Homo sapiens: one gene and its partners. The protein of the gene in region 2 interacts with the protein of the main gene of each other region in a pairwise test. Each region holds a gene or a part of one and is shown on either strand. Other genes may lie near its edges.

Region 1 (7,135 bases), on a different chromosome or scaffold from region 2:
GATTTGGAGAGAATGGAGAGGGTAAAAAAATATGGTTCATGGCACCTACTGGGTCCAATATTACTACTTCCTGTGGTAAAATGCCTGTAAAGATTACCTCCAGCAATTCCTGTCATCCAATATGCACATGCAATCAAGAGATAGAATCTATTGCCTCACCCATGGAATCTGAGACTTGGGACTTGCTTTAACCCATAAATTGTGATAAAAATGATACTGTGCCAGTTCTGGGCTTAAGCTATCTGAGAATGGTCAGCTTCCACTATTGCTCTCTTGCTACTCTGGACTGTCACATAAGGAATTCCAGGCTAACCAGATAAAGTGAGACATCATACAGGGAGAGAAGCCATGGGAAGAAGAATTAAGACCCCCGCCCCAGGCAAAAGCCAACACAAAGATCTCAGTCATGTGAGTGAAGCCATCTTAAACCTTCTAGCCTAGCCCAGATACCAGCAGAATGCAGCCTTCTATTCCAACTAATTCACATGGAATGCTGCCCAAATCCTGACCCAGAGAATCGTAATAAAATAGTTGTTGTTTAAGCCACTACATCTTGGGGTAGTTTGTTGCACAGCCATAGATAAATGGAACACTCCATTTGTGGAATTAGATAATAAAGTTTTCTTCAGAGTAAGTTTCTTAACAGCCAGTAACCATTTAAATAGAAAGCTGATAATAGAAAGTAGAAAGAAAAAGAGGTAGAAGGAGAAAAGAGGAGGAATATCAGGGGATAAAGTTATCCACAACTAATAGAGACAGAACAAAATAAATGAGATAGATTGGTAGAGGTGGGGGAAGAAGTGAGTAAGTGAGGGAATTCAGGGACATGTGACCTAAGGAGGAGATAGATTAAGGATTCAGGAGCCCACATGGTGCATGTATGGGTACAGGAGATGTAGACGGAGAAGGGGAACACTAAATTAACAAGAAGGGGGCCTGGGTCCACAGCCCAGTTCTGTTGTAATTAGCCATCTGCCCTCAAGAAACACATTTATTCTGACCTCAAGAAAGGCATTTGTTCTATCTGGCATTCAGTTTCCTACATGGTAAAATGAGGGATCGAGATAAATAATCTCTTCCAGATTTAATTTATTTCCCTTGACAAGAAAATACAAATGAGTTTGACAATTCTTATAAACACTGTGTCCTGAAAACCATACCTATTTATGGGGTGAATGAGACTTTGTAACTATAAGTGGTTGGCTTATTTGTGCAACAAAATGCTAATAGTCTATGTTAATAAGAAGGGAAATATTGTTATTTCAGTAATGTGGAGATGCTCTATTGATAGTATCCATAGGGTTAACAATTTTTTGTCCAAAACTTCTGCCTGACTTACCACAAGGCTTTGTTTTTTATGTTAATAACCTCAATACATCATATCTAATATTATTTTCTAAGAAAAATAATTCTTCTAATGTGAGATTGCTAGATTCTTTGTTTTAAGCCAAGTTATAAATATCCTTTTTATAAAATCTCTTTGCTGTTACTAAAATATTTGATGCTCCCAAACATAGTATCACTACTCCTTAGAATATTAGTTTGGCTTTGTGAAACAAACAAGAACATTACACGTATTATTAATGGGCAAGTATTCTCTTAAATTCTTCTTCTAACATCAATTCTTTTCAGATTTTCATTAGCTCATTTATATTCACTGAATGTGTTCCTTTTTTGAACCCCATTCAGATTCAACTCCTCAAACAAACCAAGCTCACATTCTTATGTATGTGAAAGTATATTTACTGTGCAATTATCGAAGTCTGGGAAACTTTCCTTAAAACTATTTTCTATGTAGGTTATCCCTAACCCTACTTTAATTCCTTTTTATTTTTAGCTCTTAGCCTATTACTTCTGAGAAAGCTTCCTCTGATTCCAAAGTCCAGTTATTCTTATTGAACACCCTCAATATGACACAAATACACTGTTTTGTAATTGCCTAGTTCTAATATGTATTTCACATTAGACTAAGTTTCAAGAGGACAAAGATCTGAAACTAGACATTTTTTTCTTTCTCATTATAAGTTCTGCACTTACTACAGGTGTGTTCAATCAATAATTGTTAACCAAGTGAAAAATGAATGAATGTATTGCATGTGACACTGTGGGAGACATTAAAAAGAAATGGAATACTTTGTAGAACATTAAAATCAGCTATATTTGTTATAGGTATGTATATTAATAATGATACTTTATAAGCATGAAAACAACAGCTCATTTTAAGATCAATACAACCACAATTTTGCCATGTAGCTGAAGTCTTAACTTTTTCTAAATATAATATAATAAAATTTACTATCTATCTTAAAATTGAGAATAATTGAGAAAAGGAAAAGTAAACAGATTATATAGGTCTATTTTCTGGAATAAACATGACAGATGAAAAACACATCAGTAAAATGTGTTCTTTATGCACTTAGGATATTTAAGGAATCAAATCAACTATATAAAGTATTGCATTTTTCAGAATATAAAATACATGTCAGTCAACAACTTATAAAATGTTCCAGAGTGCCCCCAAGTTGCAGAGTAAAGGCCTACAATTCAGAAGCAACAAGGTATAGGAATTGGATGATATTCAACAGAGAAAATTGTGAAGCAGACACAGACATCTATTACCTTTCTAGTGTGAAAGCATACATCTTGGCAGCTTTATCATTCACAAGATACGTTCTTTCAAGAAACTCCATGACGGCCAGGATGAGCTGCGGCTGTTGTTGTCGTTGTTGTTGAACTCACTGCCCAGTTTTGGAAGCAAAGCAGCACTGCAATTATTTATACACTTTCTAAAGAAAAAATTAAAAGGCTCCAGAAATTAAAATAATGAGCTTCCTACATCAGTGTTGTTGGTAGGTCTGCTAAAATTACAGCCTCCTTGCAATATTACCTGGCTTCATTGTTTTCACCTACAAAAACTGCTTTTCTAGGGAGACTTGCAGGTAGCATTACATGAAGTGTGTATGTCTTTCATATGATATCTGATTCAATTGTGCTTTCTAAGAGGTAGAGGAGCTCAAGAGCTTGCTACAAATTGCTGATGTAGGGTTTTGACCTTCGGAGCACACGTGGGTGAGCTGCAAATAGCTACCATTCGCTACACTAAACTAATTCTTTCTTTTTCTCTCCCTCCTCCTTTTTCTGGACTCTTTATCAGCCTAAAATTATTTCTTTGGAATTTAGTTCTAAGATGACCTCTAAGCAGCTGTCAGAATTTACTTGTCTCTCCTAGGACCATTTTGGGATTTCACTATTGAAAGGGAGGACAAGGGTCAATAGTTTCTGAAACCAGTAATCTGAAAACAGTTCTTGGTACAGCAGCTTTGAAATCCTTTTGATTGGCAAGAGAAGGACAGACTCTGCTTCTACGTAAATAACAGCCCTCCAAAATACAAGAACCAGAGTGAGCTTTGTTCTTCCTGGCCAAGGTACCCTCTACTAAGGATCAAGGATTCACCCAAGGAAACCCTATCAGGCATGCCAGTTCCAGCTCCGAGGAAGGAAGCCTCTGAGTTGCTCCTGGGAGACCTCACACTCCTCAACTCCTAGGAATCAGCATTTTACTTCATACAAAGCACTTTCCTTCCCAAATAAGAGAAAGAACTATAGCCTTATGGCAAGAGCCTGGACAAACAGTAGGCATTTGTGTGTGGGCAAAAGGTTTCAAGACCTATAAAGATGTACACAACGGTAGAGAAAGAGGGGGTTGTGCAGACTGGAGAACAGGAGTAAACCCCAGACCACCAGGTTCTTGTTGCCTTTTCCTTGTGTGAACACTAACTTTCTAGTGAGAAAACTCAGAGTAGTTAAGTCCCAGAATAACCCAGTGGCCCAGAGTCACGGGAAGTTGCCCATTATGCTGAGCTGAGATCTCTCACAATGGCCTAATAAAATGAATATTGTGCTCTAAAAGGAGGATGGGGTTCAATGCCAATTGTCATAGGCAGTGACAGGAGAAGTCACCTTTGGTTCAGAATGAGACTATTAGGTCTCCTATCACATCTGTGGTGTAGCTGTACCTCTTATTATCTTAAGATTTCAAACACTCTCATCTATAACATAAATTCTAAGGTCTTCTCATATGACCCCACTCTTACTGATCCTTAACTTTGCTCACACAGTTTGGAGCCTCTAAGAGGCTCTGGGGGAGCCTTTTCCTTGCAAGTGAAGGCATTGAAATCCTGGGTCTACTGTTAGCAGAATAAAAACCAATGTATTTTTTCTCGTATATTCTTACTCTTAACCTTACAAAGTAATCAGTTATTCTGTGGAGGCGAAAGTAGAAAACCAGAAAAGAATTACTAATCCACCTGTGTGACACACTGCCATATGTCACAGCTTGAATCATTTGTGAATAGTTTCTAGCACAGACAAGAGAAATAGAATTCAAGTGAATGAATGTCAGAAAATGAGGAAACTACTTTAAATCAGCCTGAAATTCATTAAGGGTGAGTACAAAAAAAAGAGATAAGCAATATTTTCAAATCAGGAAGGAGAATATTTGGCTATAGATATCAACAGGAAATAAACAATCTGGAAGTTTGAGATTCCTCCATGCGAACTTTGCCTCTAGTACAAATACGGATGTACAGATCTATTTATAATTGACATACATACATACATAATTGACATATAATTTATAATGAGTGTGAAGGATACATGCCAGGTAGTTAATGTGGATTGCCTATGGGGCAAGAATAAAGTGAGAGTAGGATGGGGTTGATGTAGGACAGGGAAAAGTGAAGATGGGAAAAGAGACAATGAGAGACCCAAGCAAAACAACAAAAAATACTGCTACCCCCTGTCAAAAATGTATCCTATGATCTCTTCTATTTGTCTATAAGATAAACTATATAAGTCCTATGTGGTCTAATATCAGCAATTTTATATGGTTCAACTTAAATATACATGCACACATATATAGATACCTAAAATATATGTGTGGATATGTATGTTACATTTACTAATAAAAATGTACATATTTATAAAGTACTAGGAAATTAATTATGATTTTCATCAAAGATTTATGAATCCCAAAAGTTACTCTTGAAGATGATTACCATAAAGCAAAGCTTCCAGTGTGAGTAGCATAAGAACAGAGAACAGTAGATTACAGCAAATAAAATTATGCTTAAAAAGTTTTGCTGCCATAAATTTAGATGCAGATGTTATGATCAAGAATTGCATATTATATCATGTAAAATATGCATCTGCTGATCACCTTATTCTCTTACAAGTTCATTTTAACTGCACCGTCATTCCCTCTCTCAAATATTTTGTCATCACAACATTTATGAAAAATCTCTCATCCTCCCTGACAAACCTTTGGTCTACTTTGGCATGAACTGCCCACCAAGGGCCAACGGCCTAACTGGGCTCCACAAGCAGCATAGAATATATATTTGGAAAGCAACTTGGATCAAAAAGGAAAATCCCATCCCCTGTAGACATTGGTTTTAGTGGGCATTACGCTGCTCATTTCAGTTTCCTAGGCAACCAGCTTCCAAACCATCCCGAATTACAGGTTGTCTTCTCCGCCCACTCTCCTTCACAAGCTTGGAGTAACTGAATGGGAAACACACAATCTATAACAGCTACCTGTGGAAATAAGTATTCTGTCAGCCACAAGAACATCACCAACATCACTGAAGAACTGGTTTGGCTCTTCAGTCCTAGCTGTTGTCAGCAACAATTTCTTAATAGGGTGTTACAAACAGTAGCTAATACTTGTGCAAAAATAATTTCACAAGTATCTTAAACATTGTTGGATATTTCACTTGTAGAAAGGACATATGGATTTATAAAAAGCTACCATCATTATCCCTAGATACTAAAGTACCAAGTACTTACAATTTGTGTTCCCCATATTTAAACTCGTATTTCAGAAATACTTCATGTTGCCAATGTGTGCATGCAACCATCTTTTTAAATCAGACATAGAAATGTGCCTGTTTTTAAATAACAAATGTGGACTTTCATCATGTTTTGCTTTTTCCTGTTGGTGTGGAGAGGTAGTGTGGTGAAGTGGTTTAATATATGGGTTTTCAAGTTAGTTAGGTAGACAATTTTAGTTTCCAGTTTGACCACTTTCTTAGATATGTGACCTTGAACAAGTTGCCTGACCACTGTGTTTTTCCGTTTCTCACCTGTAAAATGGGAGTATTAATCGAATCCATCTTACAGAGTTCTTGTGAAGAGGAAAACAGATAATATGTATAAAAGTTCTTAGCATAGTCTCTGATATATAACCAGTTTTATGTAACTGTGAGTTTCTATACACTGGGCCATGTCTAAGTAAAATGTTTTGGCTATTGCTGAGAAATTGGCTCCAGCTTTAGCAGAAGGCTAAGAATTACCTGTGAATGAAGCATCCATCAAGGAAATAAAGGTTATTGAAAAAGGAAGATCTGGGGACTTCAGCTATCGGCTCTATGACTTTGGGTAGATCTCTCAAACCCTCTGGACTCTACTTTCTCAAATTAGATTGATGTCTGCCTCATTCTACCCCCTCACCAGTAGAGTGCCATTCAGAATGATCTTCACTATGGAGCTGTCTTCCACAACAGGGGAGGCAATTCAAACTCAACCAGTGTAATCACCCACTAAAGATTCTGGACTCATGCATTCTCACATAACTATAAAGATCTTATTATTTCTAAGTTGAGTAGTATTTTCTTAGCAAGGTAGCTTTATGGTTATTACTACAGTGTGAGTATTTCAGAGGTTTCATCTAGAAATGTGAAAACAAAGACATTAGAAATTTAATTGGATTGTATTTTAGAGAGCATTATGAAAATTTTATTTTAATCTAAAGTAAATATGTATAAAACACAAACCATTTCCAATATTTTATACACTGCTTGAAAATGGACCGAAAGCAATATGATGTTTATTTCCTTCTTGATAAATTAGGACCATGTAATTTTTTTTACTATTTCTATTTTTCAAGCGATTGAGCTATAGGAATGTTCTGGTGAAAATGCAATTTGTATTTGTTAAGAATAGAAAGACTTGATAAAATATTGATACTAAAAGAATAAAAGAAATATTTTATTAAGTCTCATAGATGCAAATAAATGACAGAAAAATGAACTAGCATTATTTTTGGGGGGAGAAATATTGGGGCTAGCTGCTTGAA
Region 2 (7,670 bases):
TTGCCAACTTCTCTACTACTATTCTGTATGCATCACTAAAGACCAATATTCAAAGCAAAACAACAAAATCCACTCCTCTAGCCAGGGACCACTCAGCTGGAATTCAGACACCTGGATCCTGTTTCCACAGACAGTTGACAACTATGAAATTGGTTCTGTGACATGAATAATTACTCCTTTGAAAGGCTCTCCATAGGAATGGGAGAGCATGCTTATCCTCCAGGGTCCAAGAACTCTAGTAAACACCCATAACTTCAACTGGGTATAGCAGCCAGGGGCCTGCGTGTAATGCCTTACCAGTCCTTCTGGGATACATTCTGGTTGTAAATGTGCCCACTGATGTTTCTATAAGGTGGACAGATGCATTTGCACCGGATATCTTCAGAACTCTGGAAAAGAAAGCACATGTCAAGTATGCAGAGACCCTGCCTGGGGTTCAGGGGGTTCAGGCTCTAGCAAGGTTGTCAACTTTCTGTTCCCCATCCTGTTAGGTGAACCATATCTATGCTCTTGAGCTTTCTCCATCCCCAAGTTCAAATCCAGCAAGGACTGCCACTGTAGGAAGCAAGCTGCAGCACCGGGTCCTAAAGATAGAAAAATGTCCAGATGGCAAATGAGACTCACAGAAAGTTGTCTAGGCCTGCCAGTCCCAAAGCAGGTACTTAGAGGAATGCGGGGAGAGGGATGAGGGGAAATGGGTGTGTGTGTGTGTGTGTGTGTGTGTCCTCTACCCCAGACCCCACACTTGTGTGTGCACCTCTGTCCAGTGGACTTGGCAGCCACCCTCTTCCCCACATTCCTTCTCCAACTTCTTAGGTAGGATTGGGGAAACATAAAGGGCGAGGGTGAATAAGAAAAAGTGGATCATTTCTGTGGGAATACTCAAGCAACCCCTTTGAAAGTTCTTCCCTTCTGGAATGAGTAAGAGATATCACCATAAATGTCTTTACTAATTAGGATTTCTGAGGAGAGAATGGAAACAAACTCTCAGCCTTAACCTTACTTCAAAGTCTGGATGATCTTTAGTTCCATAGATCTACCCAAACAGCTCCACAGGAATGTAGCAATAAAGAATGGAAGTTATCTCAGGAGTCCCAGAACTTAGGTGGGTCACCCTTAATAATGGAAACTTCAAACTGTATAGGACTTTACACTTACAGGGCATTTTTACATTGTCATGTAATTTGATTCTCCCTAAGCAGAGTAATAGATACAACTGCTACTACAGGTGGTAGTACTAGCACCCCTAAAACAAAAATTCGAAATGCTCCCAATCTAAAACTTGTTAAGCACAGACATGACCACAAAGATGATGTTAACATTGCAGAAAAGCACCTACAGACATGGTAACAATGAGTGACGGGCTTCTTGAAAGACTATAGCAGAGCGCATTCATAACAGAACAAGAAATCGTGTCAGTCTATAAAATCAAAGAGACTTCTAAGACAAAAGCTTGTTAATGAATCAGGTGACTGGCAAAAACATTTTTAAAAGCCATCTGGCAGAATGCCTCCTCATCTCTAGAGGACCCACTTTCTGGTCCCTCTACTGCTTCAGATACTACTTCTCACCTAAAAAAATACTGTGCACAGTAACCTTTAATCAAAACACAGCATCACAGCAGGAGACAGAAAGCCTTATGTTGCTGTGTCTAACAGCTGATACAGGTATTCTGGTGATGCTACTGTGCTTAGTTACCCTGAACACATCATTTATTTTCACTGTGTTAATAGTACATCATATTTTTTTACCGTTAAGAACTTATGTGTAACGTAAGAAAATATTTATCGGTAGCATATAAATTCATTGTCAGGAATGGTGGTGATGCCAACCAACCAGACTATCCACATGGGTGCCTGAGATAGTGACGCCTTTGCTTTCTGATGGTTCAGTGTAGATAAACTTTGTTTCATGCACACAATTATTGAAAATATTGTATAAAATTACCTTCGGGCTATGTATATACAGCATATATGAAACATAAACGAACTTCAGGTTTAGACTTAGGTCCCCTCCCCAAGATAGCTCATTTTTTATGTGCAAATACTCCCAAATCCAAAAATATCTGAAACAAAACATACTTTGGTCCAAAGCAAAGGAAGGTATGGAGAACTTAGATAACTTCTCCAAACTTCCTTGCTGGAAGTCCACCACTGATCTGTCTGATCAGAGTGAGCCAGTGCTCTGTGCCCCACCCTTCCTCACTCCTCACCCGCACTATCCTTAGGGAGGCCAGCAGCCTTGAACCTGAAGGAAGACCACTAAAAGAAGTATGGCCCATAGGTGAGTGAGAGGCAGGCTTAAGGAGCAGCTGGCTACCTCTGAGTCAGCCCTGTAGACAGGGTGGCCGTGCACTGTGGTCGTGACCAGGTGCTGCAGGCTCACCTCCCTCACCTTGTTGGCTTCAGCTGGGGGCACCAGCAAACACCCGACCACAGCCACCAAAGATAAGAGCTTCATGCTTATCAGGCTTGCTGGGCCAGCAAAGCCGGACACCTGGAAAAAGAGATACGGAGTCGGAGAAGGGGAAGGTGGCCACACCGCAGCCAGCACGCTAGGCCCTTAACCATCCGGCCAAGTGGGAATGGGGTTGGGGGCTGGGCTCCAGGATTCCAAGGCCTGCTAAACCTGGTCGCCAAACCCTGCTTCCCTCCCGCCCAACTCTCCGGCTCTCCGCCAGCCACCTGGTGAGCCCGGCAGAGGGGTCCTCGAGGGGACACCGCTGCCAGGGGCCTCCAGTTCCTTCTCAAGGCCCGGCTCTGACCCGCGCATCACGTCCCACCGCCCTCCGCCATCTCCGCCTCTGCCCGCCCCGCAGCTCCTCCCCGCTCGGGCCCGACGGGAACTTTTGGGTGCGAGTCTGGGACCCCTGCTCCGACGGCGAAGGCCGGTGCCCACCACGCCCAGAGGTCTTAAGCCGGACTGGGACCCCCAATAGCCCCGCGACCCCCGTCCCCTCCCCCAATGCCGCGTCCACGAACCTACAAGCCCGCTGCAGCCGCAAAAGACCCAGTTGTCCCCGCCCTCTCCTAGCTTCTATTGGTTGCCAGAGCAGCCCCTTAACCCGACCGCGCTGTCGCCATGGCAACAAGACCCGCCTTCACCTGGGCGGGGAGACTCTTGCGCAAGGGAGAGGCGGGCATTTCTCAAACCCGACCAAACCAGAAAAGGGAACGTCAGCCTTCCAAACTCCTGGGGAAGGGTCTTGCCTTTGTGTGGCCTGAGAACTCCCACTGCGGTGCTTCTCCCTTCCTTGTATTATAAAACTCAGCTTGTTTCATCTTGCTGTTTTAGAAAGAAAGCGCTTTATACACTGTAAGCTAGTAACGTCAACAAAAACGATACGAGATTGAAGGGCTTTGTCCTCATTCAAAATCTGGAAATGTTATTTAGGGATCCACGTCTTTGCTGCAGAAGACTTTCTGCGCGGCAACGTCTCTACCCCTACACACACCTCTGAGAAGGAGAAATCTAGGGTTGGCGATGGGTGGTGTGGGCTGGGCCTGTGAAGAGTGTGCACAACAGCGTCCTCAGCCTGATCCCCCTACCCCATGCTGGTGCTGGGCCTGGCAAAATGGGGCAAAGTGTGCATGGCCAGGATGCAGGGGTGAGGGTCCCTGGCTGCTATGTGGCAGATGTGAACTTCTTGCCAGCTGTGAAGGAAAGGGGAGTCATATGAATTCAGGGCACCAGACCCGGAGTGAGGACACCGGGGCTTTGGCCCTGGCGCTCCCCCTAAGCAGCTGTGTTAGCCTGGAAAAGATACCTCCCTTCTCTGGGCCTCAGCTTCCCTTACTTCCCTTATCTGTAAAATGATTCGGTTGGATTCTAAGATCCCCTTCAGCTTTGATATGTTGGGATTCCTTAGGGGTGGGTGGGAGGGGTATCAATATGGCCCAAACTTGAGGTTGGTGGCTGGATTAGCATAGGGGCTGGGTCCAGGTGGAATCAAGCCCCTCGCAGGCCCTGTGAACTGAGGTGGGCACTTATCTGGAGGCCACTGAGTTTGTGTTCCTCTCTCCTATGCTTATGTCTTATTCCTCTTTATATCCTTGCCACCTGGCAGAGTGACCTGTGTTTGGTAGGTGCTCAGGAAGTGTTTGCTAAACTGAATTCTATAGAATTAAATTAAATCTAGTTGGCAGGGGGCAGGGGCAGGAGGCCTGCAGTGTGATGCAAAGGTCAGGGGCTTTGGAGCTAGAGTGACCAGGGCAGGAATCCTGGTTCCTCCCTTCCTAGTTGTGTGAATTTGGGTGGTTTCCTTTAGGACACCGCCTTTGGATCTTTGGAAGTCTTTGGAATCCTTTCAGAAGTCTCGGTTTCCATGCCCATAAAATGGGATTAATATTACCAAATTTTCAAGGTGGTTGTAGGGATATAATGAGTTTACATATGCAAAGCACCTAGAACAGCATCTGACACAAAGAGGGAGGCTCTATAAATGGCAATGTTAGCTCATTGTGGAGGTCAGAATGGCTGCTTTGGTGAGCAAGCTCAGGCAGAGACAGAATGCCTACCTCGTGGGGGCAGAAGGGATAGTTCAAGTACTGGAAAAAGACACTTCTTCCCCCCATATACGTTCCATATGAAGGTGGGACTTTCATGGGGACAAAAGCATGGGGCTGAGTCTGTCACCTCCAATGGATGACCCTCTGACACACAACACTAAAGATACCCAATGCTGAGCTCACCATCTTCCTCATCAAACAGAAGGGAGGCCTTCCACTGTCATTCTGCATTTCTGCAGGTCCTAGATTGTGGCATCAAACTATCTTTGACTCCTCTCTCATATTTCCACATCTTGTCTATCCAGGTGTCCCCAGGAGGTAGCTATCATCACCCTGCCTGTATCTTTCCTCGGCTAGCATTCTGCTCCCTGAAATGCACTCCCTTCCTGTGTGCTCCTAGGTCCATCCTGTCTTCCTCCAATTCTGTTTTCAGCACATCGCTCATTGCTCAATCCCTGGTAGCAAGCACCCTGTTGCATCCAATTCAGACCCCTCCACTTGGCAACCAAGCCAAGTGGTTACCATTTCTGCACTTCCCCACCCCATCTCATCACTGGTTACTCCCCCCACCGGCTGTCCCTATATCTGACTTTGCTCATTGCAGTCCTCCATAGGACATTATCACCCCCAGCACTGCCAGTCGTTATCTTTCATCTTATTCAAATCTTTGCCCAAGCATTTGCCTTGCAGAAGCTTTTCCCAAATAGTCCTACCTGACCCAGGGCACCTCATTCCCATACATCCTCCATGTGCCCTGTGTTTATGAGCCATGCCAGTGAAGTGAGTCTGAACCTATTCATTAAATTTAATTCCATAAACATGTGCCAAGCACTATCTGTGAGCCAAACTCCAGGGCTCACAGATGCTAGGTACCCCAGGGATACAACAGACAAATCACATGCAACTCTGCTTTCAAGTAATGCACAACCTAATAGCAGACCAATCACATGGTCAGAATGTAACATAGAAAGTGATGTGTTGTAGAAGTGAAGCAGCCTTGTTGTCTGTGGTGACACTTGAGGTTTGTTGTCTCCTGGCCATGAAGATCAAGGAGGTAGACACACAAAGAGTGAGGTTAAGAGTGGAAATTTAATAGGTGAAAGAAAGACAATAGCTCTCTGCTACAGAGAGGGGTCCTGGAAAAATGAGTTGCCAATTTAAGGTGAAATGCAGGGGGTTTTATAGATGAGCTAGTGGGGAGGCAGTATCTCATCTATACAGGGCATCTCAAAAAAAGTTAGCACCAGGTGTGCCATCTGCATAGGGCACAAATCTCTGGCAGCTCCCAGCCCAATCTTTATTATGCAGGTGGTTTCTCTGCCTGAGCTTCTCCATGTTGCCCAGTTCTTTCTTACTGTACATGTGCTAACAAAAAAGGGAAGGTGGAGTCCCATGGTGAACATGCCTGGCCCCCCGGTAGCCCTTTTCTATGAGTGCAGCTGCCAGCATTCCTCCGTGCAAGCTTCCAGCTTCCTTATATATGTTTGCAGCCCAATCTTTGAGGCTGCTCTGTGTTAGAAAAGAAATGATTTCTAGGGCTGCTTCTTATTAGAAGGGAAGTTCTGCCAAGGACTTTTTTGTCCTTGCTATCTGCCTAAATAATTTCTATCTCCCGTATCAGAAATGCTTTTTCCCTTCAAAAATTTTTTGAGCACTGTGCTAGGTGCTGGGGATATCTCAGTAAACAAGACAAACCCTGTCCCTGTTCCCACAGAACTTGAAGTTTATTGCAAGAAAACCACAAATCAACAAGCAATGACAATTCAGGGTGGTAAGAGCTGTGCTGGGGGAAGGCTGCAGAGGCACTTGGGAAACCTAGACCAAGGGCCAGGGGAGCCCAGAATGGTGGAGAGGGGGCTTTGAGGGCAGTGAGGGCTACTTGGGCTGGGCCAGAGTGGTGGGCAGAACAATGTCGCACCCCCAAATGTCCACATCCTAATCCCTGGAACTTGTGAATACTGTCTTACACAGTAAAAGGCACTTTGCAAATATAAATTAAGGCCCTTGGTTGGGGAGAGTGGCTTGGATTATTCAGGTGGGCCCAATCTAATTAGATGGCTCCTTAACAGAGGAACCTTTTCTGGCTGTGGTTAGAGAAGGAGATGGACATGGAAGTAGGGTCAGAGAGATGCTATGCTGCTGGCTTCAAAGATGCAGGCAGGGGGCCACCAGGCAAGGACTGTGGGTGCTGCAGAAGCTGGTCAAGGCCAGCCAATGCATTCTTCCCTAGAGCTTCTAGAAGGAATGCAGCCCTGTAGACACCCTGATTTTAGTTCAAGAGAACACCTCCGTCAGACTTATGGCCTACAGAGCTGTCAGATAATACATTCGTGTTGTTTGAAGCCACCAGGTTTATGGTAATTTGTGACAGCAGCCATGGGAAACAAATACTGCCAGGAAGGGTGGGCAAAATTTGAGGCACAATTCAAGAGCAGGGTGATGGTGAGGAGGGCATTCTGGTGGGGGGTGGGGGCGGGGGCAGGGGCAGTGTAGGGAGAGCAAAGAGATGGGACTGGGGAAGTTCAGGGAGAGACATGTAGAGAAAGAGTCAACAGTTCAGTTTGTCTTGATCCCAGGACAAGCGAATGGGAAAGGAAGGCAGGGAGCTCAGTGACATCAGAGTCAGAATGTGAGCCAGGAGGGAGCCGGGAGCCCCTGGCTCGGGGCTCAGTGAGAGGGTGGAGACCAGGTAACATCAGCAGTGCACTCTCCCCAGCAGAGGAGGCCTAAGGAAGCTCTGGAGCCTTCCACTGCTTCCTCTCAGGACTTAGCCTTCATCCTGCCTCCAAGTTTGGAGCTCTAGAACTCAGGCCAAAACCCATACCCTCTAGTTCATACCTGCTTTTATCCAACAACCCTAAAATCAGTTTGACTTTATGAGGCGAGGTCTTGGCATCCGTGCCACAGCTGTGGGTCTGGGTTCTTCCTCACTCCCTGTCCCTACCGTTGGTGCTCCTGGATAGGGGATGAGTGCTGTCATCACTCCCAAATGGTGTCTACTCTCCCTGGCATCAACTATATGCCCCTGCTTTTCCTCTAATCCCCACTGAAGCTTATCTGTCCAGTGTCTCATAACCTCAAGCTCCTATGAGATGATTGACTTCCTAATTTTTGCATTAGCAACCATGTCTTAGACACACTAAAAGATCATCCAACCTAAAC
Region 3 (7,557 bases), on a different chromosome or scaffold from region 2:
ACTCCAGACCTCAGGCGATCCGCCTGCCTCAGCCTACCAAAGTGCTGGGATTACAGGCATGAGCCACCATGCCCAGCCCATTTTTCCCACTATACTAGTTTGAAAGTTAAATTCTCTTTTCCTATTAGTATTATTTTAGTGATCTCCCTAGAAATTACCACATGCATTCTTAACTTACCAAAGTGTCATGCTCATAAATACCTTTACGGAAGGATAGAGTTTCCTGAGATGGAGGCAGGAAGAGAGAACATTCCAAGCTAGATGAACAGGGAAGCAAGCAGATGAACAGGGGAAGATTTAATTGCTATCTGAGTCAGAGTGAGGCTAGAGCAAGATGAGTGAGCTGGGGGTGGGTGGTTTAAAGCCATCCAGGAAGGATGTCTTGGTCATGAAAAAGATCTTTGAGAAGAACAAGAATAACTCCTCCTCAACCCAGGAAGGACACTGATTTTCCTGAGGCTTCCCAGGAGGCAGTGGCAGAGCTTGGTCTAAAGCTGGATGTCTTTAGCAGTCTATGTCCCTGCCTCTATACCTACCCCAGCCATGCTCACTGTGTCCCCTTTCTAGCAATTCCTCAATCTCTGCTTACCTGTCTAAATACTGCCCATTCTTCAAAACCCAGTTCCATTAAATCAACCCAACAAATATTTTCTTTTTATTTTTGTATTTTGTATTTTTATTTTTAATTTGTATTTATTTATTTTTTTGAGGTGGAGTCTCGCTCTCTCACCCAGGCTGGAGTGCAGTGGCGCAATGTTGGCTCACTGCAACCTCCGCCTCCTGGGTTCAAGCAATTCTCCTGCTTTAGCCTCCCAAGTAGCTGGGATTACAGGCGCCCGCCACCAGGCCTGGCTAATTTTTGTATTTTTAGTAGAGATGTGGTTTTGTCACGTTGGCCAGACTGGTCTCGAACTCGTGACCTCAGGTGATCTGCTCACATCAGCCTTCCAAAGTGCTGGGATTACAGGCGTGAGCCACCGCACCCGGCCCAAGAACTCTTTTTATTTCTTTTATCTTCCCTCACATAAATCAAGGTAGGCGAGGTCTTTCAAACTGATAGTGAAATAAAGAGATTTCAGAAAGGGTCGGTGACAGCCAAGGTCAGACAATACAAAAAAAGTTCAGGACGAGTTCACACTGTGGCTGACATGTCTAATCATAATGACCATCATGTACTGAGTACCTCCCACATGGCTGGCACACTGCTACATTACCTCTAATACAACAACCCTATGATGTGGATATTCTTTTTTTTTTTTTTTTTTTTGAGACTGGGTCTTGCTCTGTCACTCAGGCTGTTGTGGAGTGGTATGATCTCAGTTGACTGCAACCTCTGCCTCCAGGGTTCAAGCAATCCTCCCACCTCAGCCTCCTGAGTAGCTGGGAATACAAGTGTGTGCCACCACACCCAGCTAGTTTTCTGTATTTTTTGGTACAGATGCTGTTGCCATGTTGCCTAGGCTGGTCTTGAACTCCTGGGCTCAAGTGATCCTCCTGCCTTGGCCTCCCAAAGTGCTGGGATTACAGGTGTAAGCCACCACACCCAGTGTGGATATTCCTAAATCAATTTTACAGGCTGGGCACGGTGGCTCATGCCTGTAATCCCAGCACTTTGGGAGGCCAAGGAAGGAGGATCGCTTGAGCCTAGGAGTTCAAGACCAGCCTGGGCAAGACAGTGAGACCTTTTTTTTTTGAGACACGGTCTTGCTCTGTCTTCAGGCTGGAGTGCAGTGGCGCGATCTCGGCTCACTGCAACCTCTGCCTCCCAGGTTCAGGTGATTCTCCTGCCTCAGCCTCCCAAGTAGCTGGGACTACAGGTGCGCGCCATCACGCCTAGCTAATTTTTGTATTTTTAGTAGAGACAGGGTTTCACCATGTTGGCTAGGATTGTCTCGATCTCTTGACCTTGTGATCCGCCCACCTTGGCCTCCCAAAGTGCTGGGATTACAGATGTGAGCCACCACGCCCCCGCGAGACCTTGTTTTAAATAAATAAATAAAACCATTTTATAGACGAGGAAACAGAGGCTCAGGGCTATATGGAGAATTGCCCATATTTCCCAAATCACCAGAGAATTAAAGAATTAATCTAAATTAGAGCACCTCAAGGTTTGGGCATTGGGGGTAGTCTAGAGGCAGGGAGAGGGGACCCAGCCTCAGGGAATGGTACTTAGGGCCAAGAGAACAGACAAGGTGTCAAGATAGGGAACAATAGCCAGGAGCAGACACCCCTGGTTGGAGCTAGACAAAGAGGATGACATGAAGCCCCAAGGCAGAAAACCTGAATCTAGTTGCCAAATTTGGAGAGAGGTAGTTCTTTTTGTAAAGTTTTGCTAGTCCATTTGTCCTGGGACCTTAAAGAACAGGATAGGGGAGAACTCAAAATCAAGAAAAGTAGTTTTTAGAACAAGACACTCTGAGTGCGCACCTTCTCCAGACTTCGGAGCCCCTCAGAGTGCGTCTGAGGTATCTCTGGGTCCTCCACCATTGCTCCACATGAGGCCTGTCAAAGAGAGGGCCTAGACTGGGTGAATGAACAAAAGTGAACACATGAAAAAGAGCTCTGGCAAATTAATCAACAAATGCTAAGTGGCATTAACAGCATATAGTGGATTATGTGAATTATCTCAGGTACCAGACTTGAGTCCTGGTTCTGGCATGTATTAGCTGTGTAAGTAGGTAACTTGGTTTCCCTGTTTTCCATTGTAAAATGAGGATATTAAATAGTATCTACTGGCGGAGGCTCATGCCTGTAATCCCAGCACTTTGGGAGGCCAAGGCAGGTGGATCACCTGAGGTCAGGAATTCGAGACCAGCCTGACCAATATGGCGAAACCCCATCTCTACTAAAAGTACAAAAATTAGCCGGGCATGGTGGTGCCGCCTGTATTCCCAGCTACCCGGGAGGCTGAGATAGGAGAATTGCTTGAACCCGGGAGGTGGAGGTTGCAGTGAGCCGAGATCGTGGCACTGCACTCTAGCCTGGGTGACAGAGTGAGACTCTGTCTCCAAAAAAAAAGAGAGAAAGAAAGAAAAAAAAAAGGCCAGGCGCGGTGGCTTACACCTGTAATCCCAGCTCTTTGGGAAGCCAAGGCGGGGGCAGATCACGAGGTCAGGAGTTTGACACCAGCCTGGCCAAAATGGCAAAACCTCGCCTCTACTAAAAACTACAAAAATTAGCTGGGCGCAGTAGCGGGCGCCTGTTAATTCCAGCTACTCGGGAGGCTGAGGCAGGAGAATCGCTTGAACCCTGGAAGCGGAGGTTGCAGTGAGCCGAGATCGTATCTATTTTCACAGGTTTTTTTTTTTTTTTTTAATGGAGTTTCGCTCTTGTCGCCCATGCTTGAGTGCAGTGGTACGATCTCAGCTCACTGCAACCTCTGCCTCCCGGGTTCAAGCGATTCTCCTGCCTCAGCCTCCCAAGTAGCTGGGATTACGGGCGCCCGCCACCGTGCCCGGCTAATTTTTGTATTTTTAGTAGAGACGGGGTTTCGCCATGTTGGCCAGGCTGGTGTCAAACTCCTGACCTCAGGTGATCCGCCCGCCTCGGCCTCCTAAAGTGCTGGGATTACAGGCGTGAGCTACCGCGCCTGGCCCTCACAGGGTTTTTATGAGGATTAAATAAATGAGATAAGAAGTAAGAGTGCCTGGGATATACTGGGTGTTCAGAATGTGTTATTGCTGTGAGGATTTAAGTGGAAAAGTGCGATGTTAGGTATGGCTAACTTAGAGGTCCTCCACCCGCTGCAGATGCTCTGACTACCCACCAGTGTGCTTGCAGGAGGAATTCTTGGTCCCTTCACCCTCCTTCCCTGTTGGGCTGGGATGGTCTTTGCAAAGGGAGCCAGGGGTCCCCCTCAAGTTCTTTCATGGGTCAGTCATGGTCAGGGTAGGGAGGGAACTCTGGCAGCTGGTTTTGGGGGATCAATCCTCTCATTGTGGGGAGACCCAAGGCTGGTGGCTGGAAATCCTTTCTGCGCTACGTAGGACAGGGCGCCCTCTCCTGAACAAAGGCGGGAACAGCTCTAGGCCAGAGTTTCTGGGATGTGCCTCACCGGGTCTCACTGCCTGCAAAGGTGCTCTTCCCATTGCTGAAATGTCCCCAACCGCCCTGACGAGCAAAGTTTGGGGGAGGGGCGCCAGGGCTGGGAGGAAACTGGCTTAATGTTTCAGAAGGGCGAGGCTGGATAGTTCGGTTAGAATGGAGGTGCGAGGCAGGAGAGACGGGCGGATGAGAAAGAAATCCGGCCCCTGTTGAATTAATTTTGTGTTCTTTCAACAGGTAGATGGAACGCAGCTGAGAGGTAAGGCGACAAGGTGGCTTATCCAACATGCTCAAACTCAGGTATCCAGAGCTCTTCCGGCTGCCCTCACGCAGCCGAAATTAGTGGGGGCAGACCCGGGCTGTAAAGCATGGTTTGAGGACACGCCAGATTGAGGAGGAGAGCCAGGGGTCGGGGTCTCCAGAAGCGGGGAGGAGCCAGCGGAGGATCTGGGCGCAGTTTCCTCTCTAAGTTCCGCCCCGAGAGCGCCGGCCCCGCCCCCGCCGTTCGCGCTCTGACCAGCCCGCAGAGCCAGCCCCCGACCCCGGGCCACCTGGGCCCCCGGGTTCCGCCGGCACTCTCGCCACCACCGCGTGGGTGAGTATGGGCATGGATGTGCTGGGCTGCCGGGCAGCCCCACTCGGGAGCTTGGCCGCGCGGTCTGGCCTCTGCAGGGCCGGGCCCCACGCTGTGGGAGTCCTGGTACCTGCCGTCCTATCGCACACACTCTGTTTCCCAGGAACTGCTGCTCTCTGGACTTGCCGAGCTGGCCCCCTTCTTCTCCCTCCCCAGCGTGGGGCCGGGTGTGCAGGGGTTGAGCTCTCCCTTTATTCCGCGGGGCCTCCTGGTCAGGAGTCCTAGGTGGGGAGGATGGGGCCCCGGGGTTGGAACCCCATAGAGTAGTTTTGAATGGCAGCTGTGCCATTTATTAGCCTTGGCCTTGAGTAAGTGTTTTGAACCTCCCTGAGCCTCAGTTTCCTCATCTGTAAAATGGAAATATACAGGCTGTAGCACCTACCTCATAGAATTATGGTGAGATTAAAAGAGACAATGTATATCAAGTACAGAGCAGGGGGCCTAGTATTCCGTAGGCACTCAGTAAATGTGGGTTCAGACTCGAGGCTGAGGAGATCTCTAGGGACTTTGGAGCTGAGGTAGCTCCAAAGAAAGCAATTTTCAGCTAAGTAGTACCTGTGAGGAATGTAGAACTATCTGCAGGCTGAACAATTGCCCTTCAGCTCCACCCTGAGGTGTGGAGTAGAATGACCAAGTTGGAAGGACCTTAGAGGTAATCTAAACCATGTGATTCCCATGTTGCAGAACTGTGGAAACAGATCTAGAGTGCTTAAGTGGCTTGCCAAAGGTCACACAGCTAAATGGGAGGCCAGGCATACCTCCAAGAATTGGAATGGATTATCCCTTGAACCTCCTCATCAACTCCTGATTTGGGCAGTGCCTCTTCATTCCCTGAAGATCTAGTCTTCAATTTGGGAATCCTAGTGGTTCCTCAGGGATCTAGAGCTGCAGCCTTCAGGGAGGGATACTGGGAGGGAAGACTAGTGCTACTGCAACTGCAGAGTCTAGGTTTGGGCTGGGTGAGGAAAATGTTCCCCATCTAGGGCCCTAAGGGACTTAGAGTCCATTTAGGGATGATCCAGGGAATGTGTTTTTTTTCTGGGAGGGTCACCAGAGCCACTTCCAGCTCCCTGGGATCCCTGATGCTCCTAAAAGGGAGAGAGGAACTTGAGCAATTGGAGCAGGCTGCCTGATCAGGTCTGGCAGCTGGGGGAAAATGGGTGAGAATGTGGAGGCGTAGCCACCTGGCTTGTTCTGGAATGCCAGGATGGCAACCTAACTGAGATCAGGGTTCTTTTTGAGGGTGGGACTAAAGGGAGAGTCTTGTGGGTGGGGTCAGGAAGAGTTGGGACTTGATTTGACAAGGTCTTTGAGCCCAGAAGGGTATATTCTTTATGTGTCTGGAGCCAGCCCTAGCTTGGCAACAACAAGCCAACGTTCCAGGGATGGCTTTCCCTTCAGCTCAGCACAGGGCTTTGAGGAAGAGCCAGCCCTTCTCTCTCTCTGAGTGTCTTGGTTTCTCTATCTTTACAATGGGAATAGGGCTAACTGCCTCATCTATGTAGATTTTGGTTTTTCCTTTTCTTCCTCCTGTGAACAGGTGCCTCTTCTGCCTCTCTCACTCCAGTCCTAACCTGACCTTTCTCAAGTTCAGACACAGAGAGGAAGGGGTCAAGGAAGGCCAGAGTTGCAGTGTGTAACTCTTCGTGGGTCCCACATGTATCTCTTTGTTATGTGATCCTGAGCAGATTCCTGCTCCAACTTTCCCTTCTGTATACTGTGCGGAGCTGGGCTAGGATTGTTGGTATACACTTATTTGTTATAGTTCCTGACCTTAGCTACCCTTATCTAAGGGGGAAATCACAGCCCCCAGGAACCCTCATCTGTTCACAGGAGGGTGATGTGGACAGCCCCCTGGGCACTGGGAAGCCTCCAGAAGCTGACCAAGCAGCTCTCTCCAGCAAACAGCAATCCCAGGCTAGCACCAGGCCTGATTCTGCAAAGCCTTTCACCCTGGGGGCACGTGAGGGAGCAGGCTGGGACAAGCAGGGGGCTTGGGGTTCTGTCAGCTTCCATGGAATCCCTGCCACTGTGGACTGCGGTGCAGGCACACAGAGCCTGGGAAGGGACTGAAGGTGCAGGAGGGCCCTGGGCCAGTGGGGAAGCAAATGAGAGCTGATGAGAGGCCTTGAAGCCTGGAGGCTGGGCCGAGGCTCAAAGGCCTGGGGGAGGAGATGGGCCATGCCATCCACTGGTAGGTTTTAGGGTTGGTTCTTGAAATAAAGAGAGACACTTATTTAAAGCAGCTTCTCTAGTCCTAGGCCTGTCAAGCTAGGCAGAGAGGAGTGAGGAGAAGCTCTCCCAGTCCATTCAAGCTTTATCCTAGCACAGATTTGGTTCATTGTCTTCCCTCTGAAATTGAGGTGGAATGTTGTCTTGGGATTCTGAGTCAGTCTTCCTCATCCAGGGCAAGAGCTATCCAAGTTTAGGTGCCTTCCTCCTCAGACTCCCCACCCCACAGCACACAGCTAATTTTAGGACTGAGCACAAGGGCTGACTTTATCACTGAGTGCCAGCCTGGCTGCCTGGGGCCCTGACAGCATGCCACTCCATCCCCAGGTCTGACAAGATGTACCAGGTCCCACTACCACTGGATCGGGATGGGACCCTGGTACGGCTCCGCTTCACCATGGTGGCCCTGGTCACGGTCTGCTGTCCACTTGTCGCCTTCCTCTTCTGCATCCTCTGGTCCCTGCTCTTCCACTTCAAGGAGACAACGGCCACACACTGTGGGGTAGGGCATGGGGACACTGATACCTCATATTCAGGCCGATCTGGATCTTCTTTAGATCTTGAATATCTTTTAACAAGATTAGCCAGCTCTCCACTGGGGCCCATCAAACATACGGGGCTGCTGGGGGGATGCCTGCAAATTGAAA
Region 4 (7,023 bases), on a different chromosome or scaffold from region 2:
AATAAAATAAACCATGAGAAGTACAGGTTTGCTGCATATTTATGATATCAAACCCTAAAATAAAAATGTATCATTTAAATACAATATTTCTTTTAAATATCATTAAAATATTTCTAAGCTTCAGAAATACAGCCTTGGTTTTTATTTCAATGTTTCCTGCCATGTACATCTGTGCAAATCTCATTTGAAAGATAAGTAGGAGAAAATTAATAAATTAGGACATGTTTTTGTATTATAGGCAGGGGATAAAAAAGTTATATTGAGGTCTAAAACCCATTTAATAAAATTTGTTTTTCTTTCCCATTTAATAACATTTCTGAATAAAAACTATTTTTAAATGTATAGAAAAGGCTGGGCATGGTGGCTTATGCCTGTAATCCCAGTGCTTTGGGAGGCTGAGGGAGGAGGATCATTGAAGATCAGGAGCTGGAGACAACTCTGGGCAACATAGCAAGACCTGTCTCCGTTAAAAAATGTAAAAATTATCCGGGGCCGGGCGCAGTGGCTCACACCTGTAATCCCAGCACTTCGGGAGGCTGAGGCGGGTGGATCACCTGAGGTCAGGAGTTCGAGACCAGCCTGGCCAAAATGGTGAAGCCCTGTCCCTACTAAAAATACAAAAAAATTAGCTGGGCATGGTGGTGCGTGCCTGTAATCCCAGCTACTAAGGAGGCTGAGGCAAGAGAATCACTTGACCCTGGGAGATGGAGGTTGCAGTGAGTCGAGATCGCACCACTGCACTCCAGCTTGGGCAACAAGAGCGAAAACTCCATCTCAAAAAAAAAAAAAAAATTATCTGGTTGTGGTGGCACATATATGTCCCAGCTACTCGGGGGGCTGAGGTGGGAGGATCACTTGAGTGCAGAAGCGCAAGGCTGCAGTCAACTAAGATCACACCACCACACTCCAGCCTGAGTGACAGAAAGAGGCCCTAACTCTTAAAAAAAAAAAAAAAAAGGACGAAAGAAACCTCTTGATGAACAGTACATGTAGCATATTGTCACAAAAATTACAAAATAGTGGAATATTAGAAATCATGCTTTTTAAGAGCCAGTGTTCTGAAGTTCAACTGCCTGGTTTGAATCCCAGTTCAATCAGCCTACTAGTTTGGTCCAAGTTCCCTTGAACACATCACTTGGCCTCTTTCCTCAATTTAAAAAAAGAGTACCAAGAGGACCTACTTTATAAGGTTGTTTGTAAGAATAAAATAAAATAACACAATAAAATAATATTTGCAGTGCTCTGCTTGGCTCCTGGTGGGGACTCAACATGCGCTAGCTATTATTTTCATTTTATTTCATGATATAAGCATTTACTGTTTATGCGTAAGGTACACTTAAGCCAGAACTAGAAAATCAATTTCCTGAAGATTCCTAAAACCACCAGAAAAAAAGTAAAGCCCAGCTGACCAGCTATTTCAGTAATATACTTCTTAAAAATTCTATAAAATTTGACCTGAAGTCTAAAATAAAATTACCAGCCTCATTGATAGCAATACACACACACGTACGTGAGGCTTCCTAAAGAGGGATGTAGATACATTCTTAGGTAAGACAAAATATTTAATATATTAATTCTGATTTGGTATCCCTGGGGTTTTCCCAATCCAAAGAAATAAGCCTAGGGAAACTATAAAAAGCAACAGCCCATAGTTTAAAAACAACACCAACAAGCAAACTGATCTGTTAATTCCAAAGCATTCATCTGCAAGACTGACCAGCCACATTTGGGTAAAGGTGCCGTGCTCCTACAGCATTTTTCAAAAACCTTGCATCGTATACAGTTTCTTTATAAAGGTTTATTAGGAGGAGCTTGTTAAGACAGTAGTTAATACAGCAAATTTAAAAGACCCAGAAACTAGCATCTGGCAAATATCATTTTGAGTGGGCAACAATCAAGGCAAGGTTTTAATTTTCTATTCGCACACCGCATCATTCTTTCCTCTCCGTCTGACACCTTTCACGTTTCCTCTACTTGACCTCAGTTTCATGATGTACAGCAAACGATGAAGTTTATAGTTCTAAATTTGATGCCTTGAACTGTTTCGAGACAAGACACTGCAACACTAGCAAACTAATTAAATGCATATTTTGCGTATGTGGCATATGACACATTTAATCTTGAATGATGTCATCAGTTACCATTTATCAGTATGTCTTACTTTCAAAAGTCATATAGGAAATTCATGTCTCTTGGTTGAGAATATTAATTTATATACACTTCCTGTGAGCTGGAAACAGACTGAGAAGAGTACTTACTTTTGCTCAACAAAGAGAGGATCAAAGAATTCCGTTGTGATTTTGTTTGCATATAGGGAACATCCAGTCATTGAGCACAGCCCTAACAAATATTAGAGGGAAAGCACTATGGTTAGTGTGATTTCATTAACATCATCAAGTACCTTGTTTGGAAGAAAGTTACTATTTACCTGACAGTATGAATACAATCCCAGCCAAACAAGCAATTTTAGCTTTGGCTTTATCGGAGCCTCCGACTTTGGTACACTTCATTCCAAAGAGCGCAAATATGGAACCAAAGAAGCCCAGGCTGACAGCAGCGATCATAAGTCCTCTACATGCCTGTATATAACCTGCAATTAGAGTAGGTCATTTACGTTACATAAAGCATGTGGCTGTCCAGGGAGAAATCCTCATTTTACGTTGTCATTCTGGATGTTTGTTTTCCAAAAAGATAACTGTGATGGTGAAAACATGTGGCAAGACAAGCAAGAAAGGAAAGCAAGTTAATCTACAGGGAGTGCCTATTCTAGGTCACACACTGTGAAGTGCGGTTTATGGGGAATCCTCAGGATAGATCTGAGTGTTATTTCCATATTCACCAGTGAGGAAACTGAGGCACACAAAGGTTATGTGACTTACCAGAGGTGAGTTAGAAAGTGGCAGACATGGATTCCATCCCAAATCAGACTACGAATTCCATATAGTGAAATTCCACAGTGAAAGGTGCCTTTCACTGTGAAAAAACATCATCTGCCACCATCACAACTCTGTAGCTCCTCCGCTCATTGGACTTTAAAAGGGTGTTTTAATGGTTTTGACATTATCAAATGATAAGATTTATAACTGGGTGGCAGAAAGAGATCCAAAGGGTCAAACCTTCCAATATTAGTGGACGCTTATTAATAGCAGACTAACTGGAATATCATCATGAACCATGGGGGGTCTAAGGGAATACTTTAGTGAAGTACTATTGTTTTCAGGGTGTATATAATAAAACTGGGTTTTAAAAAGCACTATTTTGTAGAAGAGTAATTTATAGTGATTAAGTCAACTGTTCTTTTATAAATGAATGCCTTTAAAGTACCCTAACGAGTATGTTCTGTCAGTTCGTTTGTTCATCCTTCCTGTGCTATTCATGTTCTTAGTCATGTATTTTTATTTGCACAGCCAGGGTACACGGTAAACTTCAGTGTGGCTTTTGTCCAGGTTTTTACATTAACAGGGTTTAAACTAATAAGCTTTTACCACATAAGCCATTTTCATTTCAGCCTGAAACAATGCCATATTTCGATCTAAAATAGTGATAGTAGCACATACCGGGTGTAAGTAAGTATCTGCTAAGCAAATAAACATATATACCTACATCAGGTTTACGTTTGGAATTAAACTTTTTAACTGGAAAAAACCTCTTATGTGTCAATATATGATAAGTCATTTATTATTGGTGTTCAAGCAGAGCCATGATAAATAATAATTCCGAGACCATGATAATCATGAATTTAGGGAGTACATACTAGTGGCCTCCAGTTCAGTTTCTTTTTTTCTTTTCTTTTTTTAACACAGGATCTCACTTTTGCCACCCAGGCTGGAGGGAAGTGGCATAATCATAGCTCACTGCAGCCTCAAATTCCTGGGTTCAAGAGATCCTCCTGCCTTAGCCTTCTGAGTAGCTGAAACCATAGGCGCTTGCCCCCACCTATGGCTAATTTTTAAATTTTTATAGAGACAGTGTCTCGCTGTAATGCCCAGATTAGTCTCGAATTCCTGGCCTCAAGCGATCCTCTTGCCTTGGCCTCCCAAAATGCTGGGCTTAAAGGCATGAGCCACTGCACCTGGCCCCAGTCTGTGTTTCTTTGGAAAAGAATGAAATTGAAGTTTTAATCCTATTCCTTGGACCCATTTTTGAAGAGCAAACAGGAGCTGCTCTACTTAATTGTAAACACTTTAGACTCCCACAAATGCAGACTGCAAGGACAGTGACCTTCCATTGTGTAGTGTGAAATATTTCCATACAGAAAACAATTTCACTAACACCGTGGCTATCAAAAACAGCAAAACAAACTTATTTTTAGCAAAACAGGATAATGAAGGCTTCTTTCATAGCAATCATTGTGCTGCAGGGCTATCTGGGTCTCCGCTGCCAAATGCTGAACCAGCTGTATTTTAAACTTCAGTCCTCGAGCTCCCCAGCCAGAGCCCAGACAGCAGGTAGAGGCAAGACAGAGAGGGGAAGCCTGTCAGTCCCTTGCAAGTTTGAAGAGAGCCTGTGAGGATAACCCAAACTGGTTCATCACTTGCCACCAGGGCTACTCGGACAGTGTGGTTTCGCTCTTTTTGTGAAATTCATTTTAATCTATGGTTTTGAGGTTTTATAGCTGACTCTGACTGCAGTCATTAAATAAACAAAAAAATGGGGGACTCATCCATTTATATATACTCCCAGAAAACATTAGCATGTACCCTAATTTGCATTGCCTTTAGTTACTTCCATGCTTTGTTAACAGAAAGTGCAAGTTGTCGGGAATTTACCAAAGGTTAAATTCTACAATCTGGTCATTTAGAACGCGGAATGCATTTCCCAGATGATAAACAGTGGGTAGAATCCCAGGCCAACCCATTCGATTCTTAATACAACAGGGAAAATAACAGTAGTCTTTGAACTTTATGTAATCACCACTGATAACATTTTTCCCGAGTTTCTCACTCTGAGATGCCCCGTCCCAGCCCTGGTATTGGCAGCAGGACCCACTTTGGTCTCTTGACACAAGCATGAGAGGAGAAGTGGGCAGGGCAGATTCTGATCTGGTCAGGTCCTTCTTTTGTGCCAACCAGAACCCGGATTTGGAAAATGAGGTACCTTTCTCCAGCATGAACAGCAGCCATAACTTGTTAATTTTGCGCATGCACAAAGAAGGCAATTTACAAGGACGATCATTGGCCAGATTTTCTGAAATGGAGAGCAAAGAGCAGGGGATAAACTCCCCTGCCAGCCATAAATGTAATGGAGTTGCTCGTAAGCCTGAGATTTGTAAATTCTCAGTGTTCTAAGGCTACCAGTCCTTACAACACCCACAGATTGGAGCCAAGATGATTCCAACAAACCCTTTCAGAGTTCATCTTTTGCAAAGCAGACCTCTACAGCCTTGCTTTCTAACAGTTCCTGAGGGCAAAACTTACAAGTAACACCACCAGGAGAAGTGTTAGTAAAAACCTAGTCAAGGAGGCCATTATTTTTGACAGGTCTAATTTACTGACACTGTTAATAGCTAATTAACACATTAAGGTGCTGAGGCATGAACATATTTATTTAGAAGTTCTCTGAAGTATAATTTATAGTTAGTTCTCCTGGGAGAAATGGCAAGCATTCCCACTAGCAAAAATAGATGGCATACACTAAAAACAAGCTGGCTGAAAATCATACTCAGCTGAAGTTCAAGTGGTACTTTGAAAGGAGTATGGGTTAACAATAAACAGAAATCACAAGCTCATTCAGCTGTGAAATTTTCAAATAGTAAAATACAGTGACTTTAAATTAATGAACTCTGTTGGAGGAAAGCTTCAAGGTGTTCCTTAAAAGTTAAGTGTTTTCCAAATTATGTGTACTTTATTTTCAATTGCAAATCAGCAAAAAACGAAAACATCCACTTGGTGGAGACAATTCGCTAATAGCACCTGTGCTAGTTGATGGATTTAGGGGGGAAAAAAGAATGTGCTTTTCTTTTCCTGGTAGCTTTGTGTACTTCTGCAAATCCTTTGAGAGAACAGTGGTATGGGGAGGGCAGGAACTCTGAGTTTCACCTCTGGTGCTTCTATTTACCCAAGGTATGTACTTGGTTATAGGACCTAATCTCTTTGAGGCTCAGTTCTCTCATCTGTAAAACAGGGATGGCAGCACCTCCTTCACAGGATGAATAATATGGATGTCTGCTGAGCAGTAAGAAAGTCATCAAAGCATCCCGTCATATTATAATACTACAATGGATTCTAAGCAGAAATTAGAGCTGGGTTCTTAATATGGCATAACGTTAAATCTAGACATATAGCTTTGCTAGGCCTCATTTTTCTTATAAGGAAAACAAGTGGCAATGATACCCCTAGGGGAGGGGAATCAGAGATTTCTTTATATAAGAAATTTAGGGCTGGGCGCATGGCTCATGCCTGTAATCCCAGCACTTTGAGAGGCAGAGGCGGGCAGATCACTTGAGGTCAGGAGTTCAAGACCAGCCTGGCCAACATGGTGAAACCCTGTCTCTACTAAAAATACAAAAATCAGCCAGGTGTGGCAGTGGGTGCCTGTAATCCCAGCTACTCAGGAGGCTGAGGCAGGAGAATTGCTTGAACCCGGGAGGTGGAAGTTGCAGTGAGCAGAGATCATGCCATGGCACTCTGTCCTGGGGGACAGAGTGAAACTTTGTCTCAAAAAAAAAAAGAAAAGAAATTCAGAATAATGACCTCGTCGTTTGACTCCAAGAGTTCTTCTACCTAACACAAGATAGGCAAGAGTCACGAGCCTTCTCTCTCCCTTCCTGGATTCTCTTCCCAATCTAGAGCTCATACCTGGGTTTAAGGGGAGGGCTGTTCCACTCAGGCCACCATGGCCACTTTCTCCAAAGGCAATGTCAGGACCAGCACCCACCAGATGTGGCTGACCTGGGAATGCAAGGTAGAGGACAAACAGAGGGCCCCTACCCTGGAAGCTTCCACTTGCAGGTGGGGGAATCAACTCCCCTCCACAGGAAAACACAGTTGCATGATTTAACCCTCCAAGATGTTATTCTGAGAG

The links.
Region 1: the proteins of TMEM9 (region 2) and SLC30A8 interact in binary tests that used the Homo sapiens proteins (3 or more experiments, as listed by UniProt).
Region 3: the proteins of TMEM9 (region 2) and PGAP2 interact in binary tests that used the Homo sapiens proteins (3 or more experiments, as listed by UniProt).
Region 4: the proteins of TMEM9 (region 2) and CLDN10 interact in binary tests that used the Homo sapiens proteins (3 or more experiments, as listed by UniProt).

Annotation. Positions count from the first base shown.
Region 1 is NC_000008.11:117,130,883-117,138,017, reverse strand, and holds the start of SLC30A8 (proton-coupled zinc antiporter SLC30A8), read right to left. Parts: upstream 3,024-7,135; 5' UTR 2,691-3,023; coding exon 2,620-2,690; intron 1-2,619. UniProt on the Homo sapiens protein: Proton-coupled zinc ion antiporter mediating the entry of zinc into the lumen of pancreatic beta cell secretory granules, thereby regulating insulin secretion.
Region 2 is NC_000001.11:201,151,464-201,159,133, forward strand, and holds the start of TMEM9 (proton-transporting V-type ATPase complex assembly regulator TMEM9 isoform a precursor), read right to left. Parts: upstream 3,012-7,670; 5' UTR 2,461-3,011; coding exon 2,395-2,460; coding exon of another isoform or gene 2,320-2,394; intron 390-2,319; coding exon 298-389; intron 1-297. UniProt on the Homo sapiens protein: Transmembrane protein that binds to and facilitates the assembly of lysosomal proton-transporting V-type ATPase (v-ATPase), resulting in enhanced lysosomal acidification and trafficking.
Region 3 is NC_000011.10:3,804,013-3,811,569, forward strand, and holds the start of PGAP2 (acyltransferase PGAP2), read left to right. Parts: upstream 1-4,547; 5' UTR 4,548-4,639; intron 4,640-7,152; exon of another isoform or gene 7,153-7,237; coding exon of another isoform or gene 7,238-7,247; coding exon 7,248-7,412; exon of another isoform or gene 7,413-7,544; intron 7,545-7,557.
Region 4 is NC_000013.11:95,555,699-95,562,721, reverse strand, and holds part of CLDN10 (claudin-10), read right to left. Parts: exon of another isoform or gene 6,798-7,023; intron 5,224-6,797; exon of another isoform or gene 5,144-5,223; coding exon of another isoform or gene 5,098-5,143; intron 2,591-5,097; coding exon 2,429-2,590; intron 2,341-2,428; coding exon 2,259-2,340; intron 1-2,258. UniProt on the Homo sapiens protein: Forms paracellular channels: polymerizes in tight junction strands with cation- and anion-selective channels through the strands, conveying epithelial permeability in a process known as paracellular tight junction permeability.